Linked DNA regions of Homo sapiens. The protein of the gene in region 1 interacts with the protein of each later gene in a biochemical or structural test. Each region holds a gene or a part of one and is shown on either strand. Other genes may lie near its edges.

Region 1 (3,806 bases):
CACATAGTAATTGTTCAGTAAATTGCTGCTGCTGTTATTAGCAGCCCTTTATCCTATGTGTTACATAGGATTTTTGTCTGAAAGAAAAAAATGTCTAATTTTCATAGCAAAAGAAGTAGAAGCCACATAAGGGTCTATCAGCAGGAGACTAACAGATAAATCATGGTTCATCTACACAGTGGCATCCTATGCCACAGTAAAAAAAAAATGTGGAAAGTCTATGCACTGACATGGAATGATCTCTCAGATGTGGCAAATGAAAAAAAGCAATGTATGTAGTGAGTATGTTATTAATTGATTCATTGGCTTAAAAGGAATAAGATACATTTGCTTTTTTTTGTTGTTGCTGTTGAGAGTCTTGCTGTGTTACTCAGGCTGGAGTGCAGTAGCTCCATCTTGGCTCACTGCAGCCTCCACCTCCTAGGTTCAAGCAATTCCTCTGCCTCAGCCTCCTGAGTAGCTGGGACTACAGGTGCATGTTGGGCAGGCTGATCTCGAACTCTTGACCTCAGATGATTCATGTGCCTTGGCCTCCTAAAGTGCTGGGATTACAGGAGCTTATTTTTAAATTCTCTGGAAGGATCTACAAAAATCTGTAGCGTGGATTGCCATTGGGAAAGGGAAGTAGGAGGCTGAAGGGGGTAGAAGGAGAGTTTTCACTGGATCACTTAGGGCCTTTTGTGTTTTTCTTGCCCTATAGCGTTCTCTTCACCCCAGGAAGAAGAAGAAGCTGGATTTACTGGGCGCAGAATGAATTCCAAGATGCAGGTGTATTCTGGTTCCAAGTGTGCCTATCTCCCTAAAATGATGACCTTGCACCAGCAATGCATCCGAGTACTTAAAAACAACATCGATTGTAAGTCACACGCTTCTCTCTAGCTCTCAAGCACATTGTAGCACTTGGACCTTATCACTGGGTGGCTTGGCTGCTACTCAGTGTCTTCACCTTTGGTTTCTCTGCAGCAATCTTTGAAGTGGGAGGAGTCCCATACTCTGTTCTTGAACCCGTTTTGGAGAGGTGTACACCTGATCAGCTGTATCGCATAGAGGAATACAATCATGTGAGTATTCTGTTTGGGTGGGAAGAGGGCAGTTTTCTGGCTTGTACCTCCAGAAATAGCTTTGTCCCTGTGACTCCGCTGTGGCTGAAGGGCAGATCAGTGGTCAGAGCATTGTTCTGGATATATTTGGTTTGCCACTGGGCCTTTAAACAAGCATGTTATTAGCACTTGCTCCTGGCACCTTAAGTGGGCCTCTTGGGCTAGGATCAGGGTGGGATTCAAAGGGAGAAGAAAAACACTTAACATCTCCCTTGAGCTTGCCTAGTCATGAAGGTAAAGGGAGAATTCTGGCAGCAGAGTAGCTGGGACCCAGGGCGGGGAAAGCACTTTGTGTTGACACTCTGACATCTGGTGATTGGCTGGATGTCTCTTAAGAAACATCAAGATTTATCCAGAATCCTCCTTAGGATGTAGGGTATACACATTTGATTGCATCAGCTGTCTCTCTTTAATTCTGAAAGTTCTATGACCTAACACCTTTTTTTTTTTTTTTGGAGATAGGGTCTACCTCTGTTGCTTCGACTGCAGTACAGAGGCCTAATCATGGCTTACTGCATCCTTGAACTCCTGGGCTTAAGTGATCCTCCCAAGTAGCTGGGACTACAGGCACATACCACCACAGCTGGCTAATATTTTTATTTTTTAGAGAGATGGACTCTCAGACTCTTGGCCTCCTGAAGTGCTGGGATTACAGGCATGAGCCAACGCGCCTGGCCAATAACTTAACATCCTTCTTAGGTTGCCCCTTTGCCATCACAGTTCAGCGTAGTGTTGGGAAGTACCTGATTTGACTTGATCGCAGTTCTACCCTTTGCTGATTTTCTAAAGGAAAAGACTGATGTTACACAGATTTTTGTGATATTCTGTCACAGCCACCAAAAGCAACTAGCATAGTGCCTCACACTTCGCATTTTTAAAATTTAGGGAGTTATTTTTTTCCTAGAATTGTGGTATTTTAACATACTACTAAGATGAAGACCAAAAAATTTTTGGGAAACTGGTCACTCCTAGGTAATTAAATAATCAGAAAAAGATATGAGGCTGGGCATGGTGACACACGCCTGTAATCCCAGCACTCTGGGAGGCCAAGGTGGGCGGATTATCTGAGGTCAGGAGTTCGAGACCAGCCTGGACAACATGGCAAAACCCCATCTCTACTGAAAATATAAAATAGCTGGGCGTGGTGGTAAGCACCTGTAGTCCTGGCTACTTGAGAGGCTGAGGCGTGAGAATCGCTTGAACCCAGGAGGCAAGGGTTGCAGTGAACCAAAATTGCACCACTGCACTGCAGTCTACACGACAGAGCAAGACTCTGTCTCAAAAAAAAAAAAAAAATATGGAAAAGTGCTTGTACACAAATGATGTCCTGGTTCTGGTTTCAGGTATTAATTGAAGAAACAGATCAATTATGGAAAGTTCATTGTCACCGAGACTTTAAGGAAGAAAGACCCGAAGAGTATGAGTCGTGGCGAGAGATGTACCTGCGGCTTCAGGACGCCCGAGAGCAGCGGCTACGAGTACTAACAAAGAATATCCAGTTCGCACATGCCAATAAGCCCAAAGGTAACAGAGACGGGAGAGCTGGGGGAGAACTGGCAGGATGAGTGTTCTGGTCAATAGCAGGGTGTTGGTGGGCTTGGCTGGTGTAGGACTGCTTGCCCCTACATCAGGTAGCAGGGTGGGTATTTCTTCTGCCACCGCCCATTCTACCCTACAAGTGGGGTTTCAGGGCACTCAAAAAGCCCGTGGATTATTTAAATAACAGTAGCATCTCTGCTCAAGAAGGCAGATGTTCATCTCCATAATTCCACAGGCCGACAAGCAAAGATGGCCTTTGTCAACTCTGTGGCCAAGCCACCTCGTGACGTCCGGAGGAGGCAGGAAAAGTTTGGAACGGGAGGAGCAGCTGTCCCTGAGAAAATCAAGTAAGATCTGTGTTCTTACCTGGCTTTTGTGTGCTATCAACCCTTAGAGGTAGCCATAGCGGCAGGAAGCAAATTGCTTTTGGTGAAAGTGAGGCAGTGCAGACTGTGGGCTCTGGAGGCAGACCTCATCAGCTCAGCACTTCCCTCACCTCCCTCAGCCTCCGCTTCTTGGACTGCAGTGCAAGGTGATAATTACCCCTGCCCTAGGGTAGTCAAGATTAAATGGAGAGCAAAGCCTGGCTTATGGGAAACATTCCCTTATGCTTTCCCTTTTCCCATCTAAACAAAAAACACATTTCTGCAATGATTGTTATTTTGTCTAAGCCACATTAGCCTTTTCAAAATACAGATTTATACCAAAACAGTGAAAAGTTAGTTGAGATTATCATTTTTTCTGAAAGGATAATGGAGACATCTCTGAGCCACCACCAGAATCCAGGGTGATAGGGTCCATTGGTCAAAGCCACAAACAGGGTGAGTCATCCTCACACAGGCCAGCTTCAGGCTGTTCATGCTCAGGGCAGATTTCTTGTGCTCATGCCTAACCAGTGTTGTCCTGTGTTGCAGGATCAAGCCAGCCCCGTACCCCATGGGAAGCAGCCATGCTTCCGCCAGTAGCATCAGCTTTAACCCCAGCCCTGAGGAGCCGGCCTATGATGGCCCAAGCACCAGCAGTGCCCACTTGGCACCAGTGGTCAGCAGCACTGTTTCCTATGATCCTAGGAAACCCACTGTGAAGAGTAAGTAACTTGGAGTTCCTGCTCAAATATTATTTCAGCACTAGTTTTTAACTCTCAATGTCATTATTCACTGTATTACA
Region 2 (3,806 bases), on another chromosome or scaffold:
TTAGCCAGGATGGTCTCGATCTTCTGACCTCGTGATCCACCCGCCTCGGCCTCCCAAAGTGCTGGGATTACAGGCGTGAGCCACCATGCCCGACCGCCCTGGCGGTGTTTTTTTGTTTTGTCTTGTTTTGTTTTTTTGGTTGGTTGGTGTTTTTTTTTTTTGTTTAGAGACAGGGTCTCTGTTGCCCAGGCTAGAGTGCAGGGGCGCAATCATGGCTCACTGCAACCTCGACCTCCTGGGCTCAAGTGATCCTTCCACCTCAGCCTCCTGAGTAGCTGGGACCACAAGCCGGTGTCATCACACCCCAGCTAATAATTTTGTTTTTTATTTTGTAGAGACAGGGTTTTGCCACGTTGTCCAGGCTGATCTTGAACTCTTGTCCTCAAGTGATCCTCCTGCCTCAGCCTCCCAAAGTGCTGGGATTATAGGCGTGAGCCACCACGCTTGGCCTTGTTTTGTTTTTAATTAATAGACTTTATGTTTTTTGAGCAACTTTAGGTTTCTAGGAAAATTGAGCAGAAAGTACAGCAAGTTCCCTTGTGCCCCCATGGCCTCAGTTTCCCATGACCTTAGTTCCGCTGCCCTCAGTTTCCCCTGCTGCTCCTGTCTTGCCTTGGCGTGTCTGTCCCTACTGCAGCCAGGCTGATCTGTCCCAGCGCACCTCACTCTTGCCTCCAGCCATGGGCACGGCCTCATCGCGTCTGCGTTCCCCGCTGGAGGCCTTGTGGAGGCCCTCACCCATGGCAGCTTTTGCCTTCCCTCTAGAGTTTAAAGAAACCCATTATCCCCAAAGAGTTTGGGGGCAAAGTCCCCACCGTCATCCGCCAGCGCTATCTCAACCTGTTCATCGAGGAGTGTCTCAAGTTCTGTACCTCCAACCAGGAGGCCATAGAGAAGGTGAGGTCCTGGAGTTCCTATCTGGCCGGTCGGGTGGGGACTAGGGGTCCAGGGTGGTCCCCAGACATCCCCCGGCCTCTCAGCCGCAGCTGTGACCCGGAGCTGCCTGGGAGAGATGCAAGTCCCCGACCCCATGGCGACCCCACCGCTGGGGCTCCCCGGCACCAGGCAGGCATGGCCTCAGCTGGGCACCGCCTGTCCCCCAGGCACTGAACGAGGAGAAGGTGGCCTATGACCGCAGCCCCAGCAAGAACATCTACCTGAATGTGGCCGTGAACACCCTCAAGAAGCTCAGGGGCCTGGCCCCCAGCGCTGTGCCCGGCCTCAGCAGTGAGTCCTGGCGGGTGGGCGGGGGAGGCTCAGGGTTGCTCTTGGGGTGGCAGCTGGGCTGGGACCCTCGCTGGGACCTTCACAGCCCTGAGCTCAGCCACAGTCTCAGACAAAAGGAAAGCGCGGTGCTGTGGGGGGGCTGCCTGCTGCCTGGTTCCCAGGCTTCTGTGTAGGACGGACCTGGCCCTGGTGTCCTCGCTGTCAGCCGCCTTCCTCCGCTGAGTGGGGTCTCCAAGCCGAGCCGAGGGGCCGCCTGCTAATGGAGCTGCGGCAGCTTCTTCAAAGCAGGAGGCCCAGGGCTGGGCGAGCTCCATGCATTAAGCTCTGGGGAGGAAGAAAGCGGAGACCTGGGCGTTTCATTGCAGCCTCTCCAGGCTGCATTAAGCTATCACCGGCCCCTGCCCCCGTCCCCGCCTGCATTAGCACTCGGAGGGGCCCTGGGTTGGCGTCGCAGGCTGGGTGGCCCATGAAGGCTCAAAGCCCTCGAAAGCCATTAGATCCCCCGTGCTGTTCTCCCCGCCCTTCCCCCTTCGCTTGAGGGGAGGGGACGAAGACTTTGGGTGTGGGGCCTCCGTGCAGCTCTGGGGCCTGCAGAGCTGGCGGCTGCCCTGCGTCCCTGGCTCACCGCATGTCTGCCTCTCCTGTTCGGGTCAGGCTGGAACCCGGGGTCAGTGGGGTGCTGTCCCAGAAAGGGGGAGTTGAGGCAGAGGTCTGAGGAGGGCAGGGTGGGTGGGAGAGCAGGCGGGGCAGGGGTCTGAGCCAGCTACTTCACACCCTCCTCCCCTCCCTCCCTTCCTTCCAGAAACCAGTGGCCGCAGGGTTGTGTCCCACGAGGTGGTGTTGGGGGGCAGGTTGGCCGCCAAGACCAGCTTCTCGCTCAGCCGTCCAAGCAGCCCCCGGGTGGAGGACCTGAAAGGTAAGGCCCTGCCCCTGCTCTGCCACACGGTGCTTCGTGGGCCTCTGCCGGCCCAGCCCCTGCTGTGCCACACGGTGCTTCGTGGGCCCCTGCCGGCCCAGCCGCCTTTCCCGGTGGTGTCTACCGCCCCGTGGGCCATCCCAGGCAGGGGCTGACCACTGTGCCTGTCCACAGGGGCTGCCCTGTACAGCCGCCTCAGGGAGTACCTGCTCACCCAGGACCAGCTCAAGGAGAACGGCTACCCCTTCCCGCACCCAGAGCGGCCCGGGGGCGCAATCATCTTCACAGCTGAGGAGAAGAGGCCCAAGGACTGTGAGTCGCTGGCCTGCGACGGCCTAGGTGGGCAGGTGCGGGATGTGGGCAAGGCCGGGCATGCGGGCCCCAGCGTGAGCCTCAGCTTCCACCTGGGTCCCCACCCACAGCTTCCTGCAGGACCTGCTGCCGCTGTGGCACCGAGTACCTCGTGTCCTCTTCAGGCCGCTGCATCCGGGACGAGGAGTGTTATTACCACTGGGGACGGCTGCGCCGGAACCGGGGTAAGGCCTTACCCGGGTCCTTCCCCTTCCCACCCATGGCCCCCGGAACCTGGGCCCTCCCTTGAGGCCCCCAGAACTGGGGTAAGGCTTTACCCAGGCCCTCCATCCCACTCAGGGTCCCTGGGCTGCACCGTCTTTGGCAGAGCCGGGGCTAGCCCTTGGCCTCATTTTCTCTCCACCTGTTCTTTATGCAAAAGTAAGACAAGAGCTTTCCCATGACAAGGTTCAAATGCCACCACCTGAAAGGCCCTGTGTCCCTGCCTTCCTGTGCCCTTGGTCCATGGAAATGTGGAGGTTGCTGGCCCCAGGAGCGGAGGGGCTTGTCCCACCCTTGGCCTGGTGGTTCTATTCAATCCCCCAGGCAACCACGCAGCCACGCTCAGGGCACATGGCCAGCCTTGCACAGCCCTGTGGCGGCCCCTAAAGCCATCGCCTCAGGGATACCTGGAGGGTGCTGCCCGGGGCAGCGCTGCCAAGAGGCCTCTGCAGAGGGCACTGGTCTCCCTGGATCCAGGCCTGGGCGTCCTGGCTGCCACACGACTGCCGGGGCCTGGTCTGCTTCCAGCTCCACCAAGAGGCTGAGGCCTCCTGTCCTCAGTCCTCACTCCCTAGTAGGGCTCGGTAGATGCAGGTGGTCAGTGCCCCGGGGGCTGTGGAGTGGGCCTGGCCGGGCCCTGACTGTGTGTCTGTGTCCCCTGCAGTGGCCGGAGGCTGGGAGACCCAGTACATGTGCTGCTCGGCTGCCGCCGGCTCTGTCGGCTGCCAAGTCGCAAAGGTGAGCCCTGGCGTCCCAGTCCCCTCTGCCTGTTCTCAACAGACTTCTGCCTCCCCATCGTTGGTGTGGGGTCTCGGGACACAGCACAGTCCTGGGCTCAGGGTCTGGGCCCCCGGGCAGCCTTTCTTGTGTTACCCAGAGAACGTAGCACCCGTAGGCCCCAGGCCCTGTCCCTGGCCACTTCCCATCCTGGGAAGCCGTCCTCCCTGTGTCTTCTTGGCAAGCCCCCTTCCCCACCTGCTCACCAGGGTCCCAACCAGTGAATGGGCGTGATGGATGGATAGGATGGTCCCGAAGGGCTCAGAGATGTGCTGCTGCTGCCACCCCCGCCCCCACTGCACCCCGAAGCTGC

The links.
Region 2: the proteins of ELOA (region 1) and REXO1 form a complex in vitro, tested with the Homo sapiens proteins (one study listed by BioGRID).

The regions. Positions count from the first base shown.
Region 1 is NC_000001.11:23,753,400-23,757,205, forward strand, and holds part of ELOA (elongin-A), read left to right. Parts: intron 1-700; coding exon 701-856; intron 857-963; coding exon 964-1,061; intron 1,062-2,443; coding exon 2,444-2,624; intron 2,625-2,874; coding exon 2,875-2,986; intron 2,987-3,553; coding exon 3,554-3,726; intron 3,727-3,806. UniProt on the Homo sapiens protein: SIII, also known as elongin, is a general transcription elongation factor that increases the RNA polymerase II transcription elongation past template-encoded arresting sites.
Region 2 is NC_000019.10:1,817,355-1,821,160, reverse strand, and holds part of REXO1 (RNA exonuclease 1 homolog), read left to right. Parts: intron 1-765; coding exon 766-897; intron 898-980; coding exon of another isoform or gene 981-992; exon of another isoform or gene 993-1,103; coding exon 1,104-1,227; intron 1,228-2,029; coding exon 2,030-2,143; intron 2,144-2,317; coding exon 2,318-2,455; coding exon of another isoform or gene 2,456-2,482; intron 2,483-2,565; coding exon 2,566-2,679; intron 2,680-3,380; coding exon 3,381-3,454; intron 3,455-3,702; coding exon of another isoform or gene 3,703-3,717; exon of another isoform or gene 3,718-3,806. UniProt on the Homo sapiens protein: Seems to have no detectable effect on transcription elongation in vitro.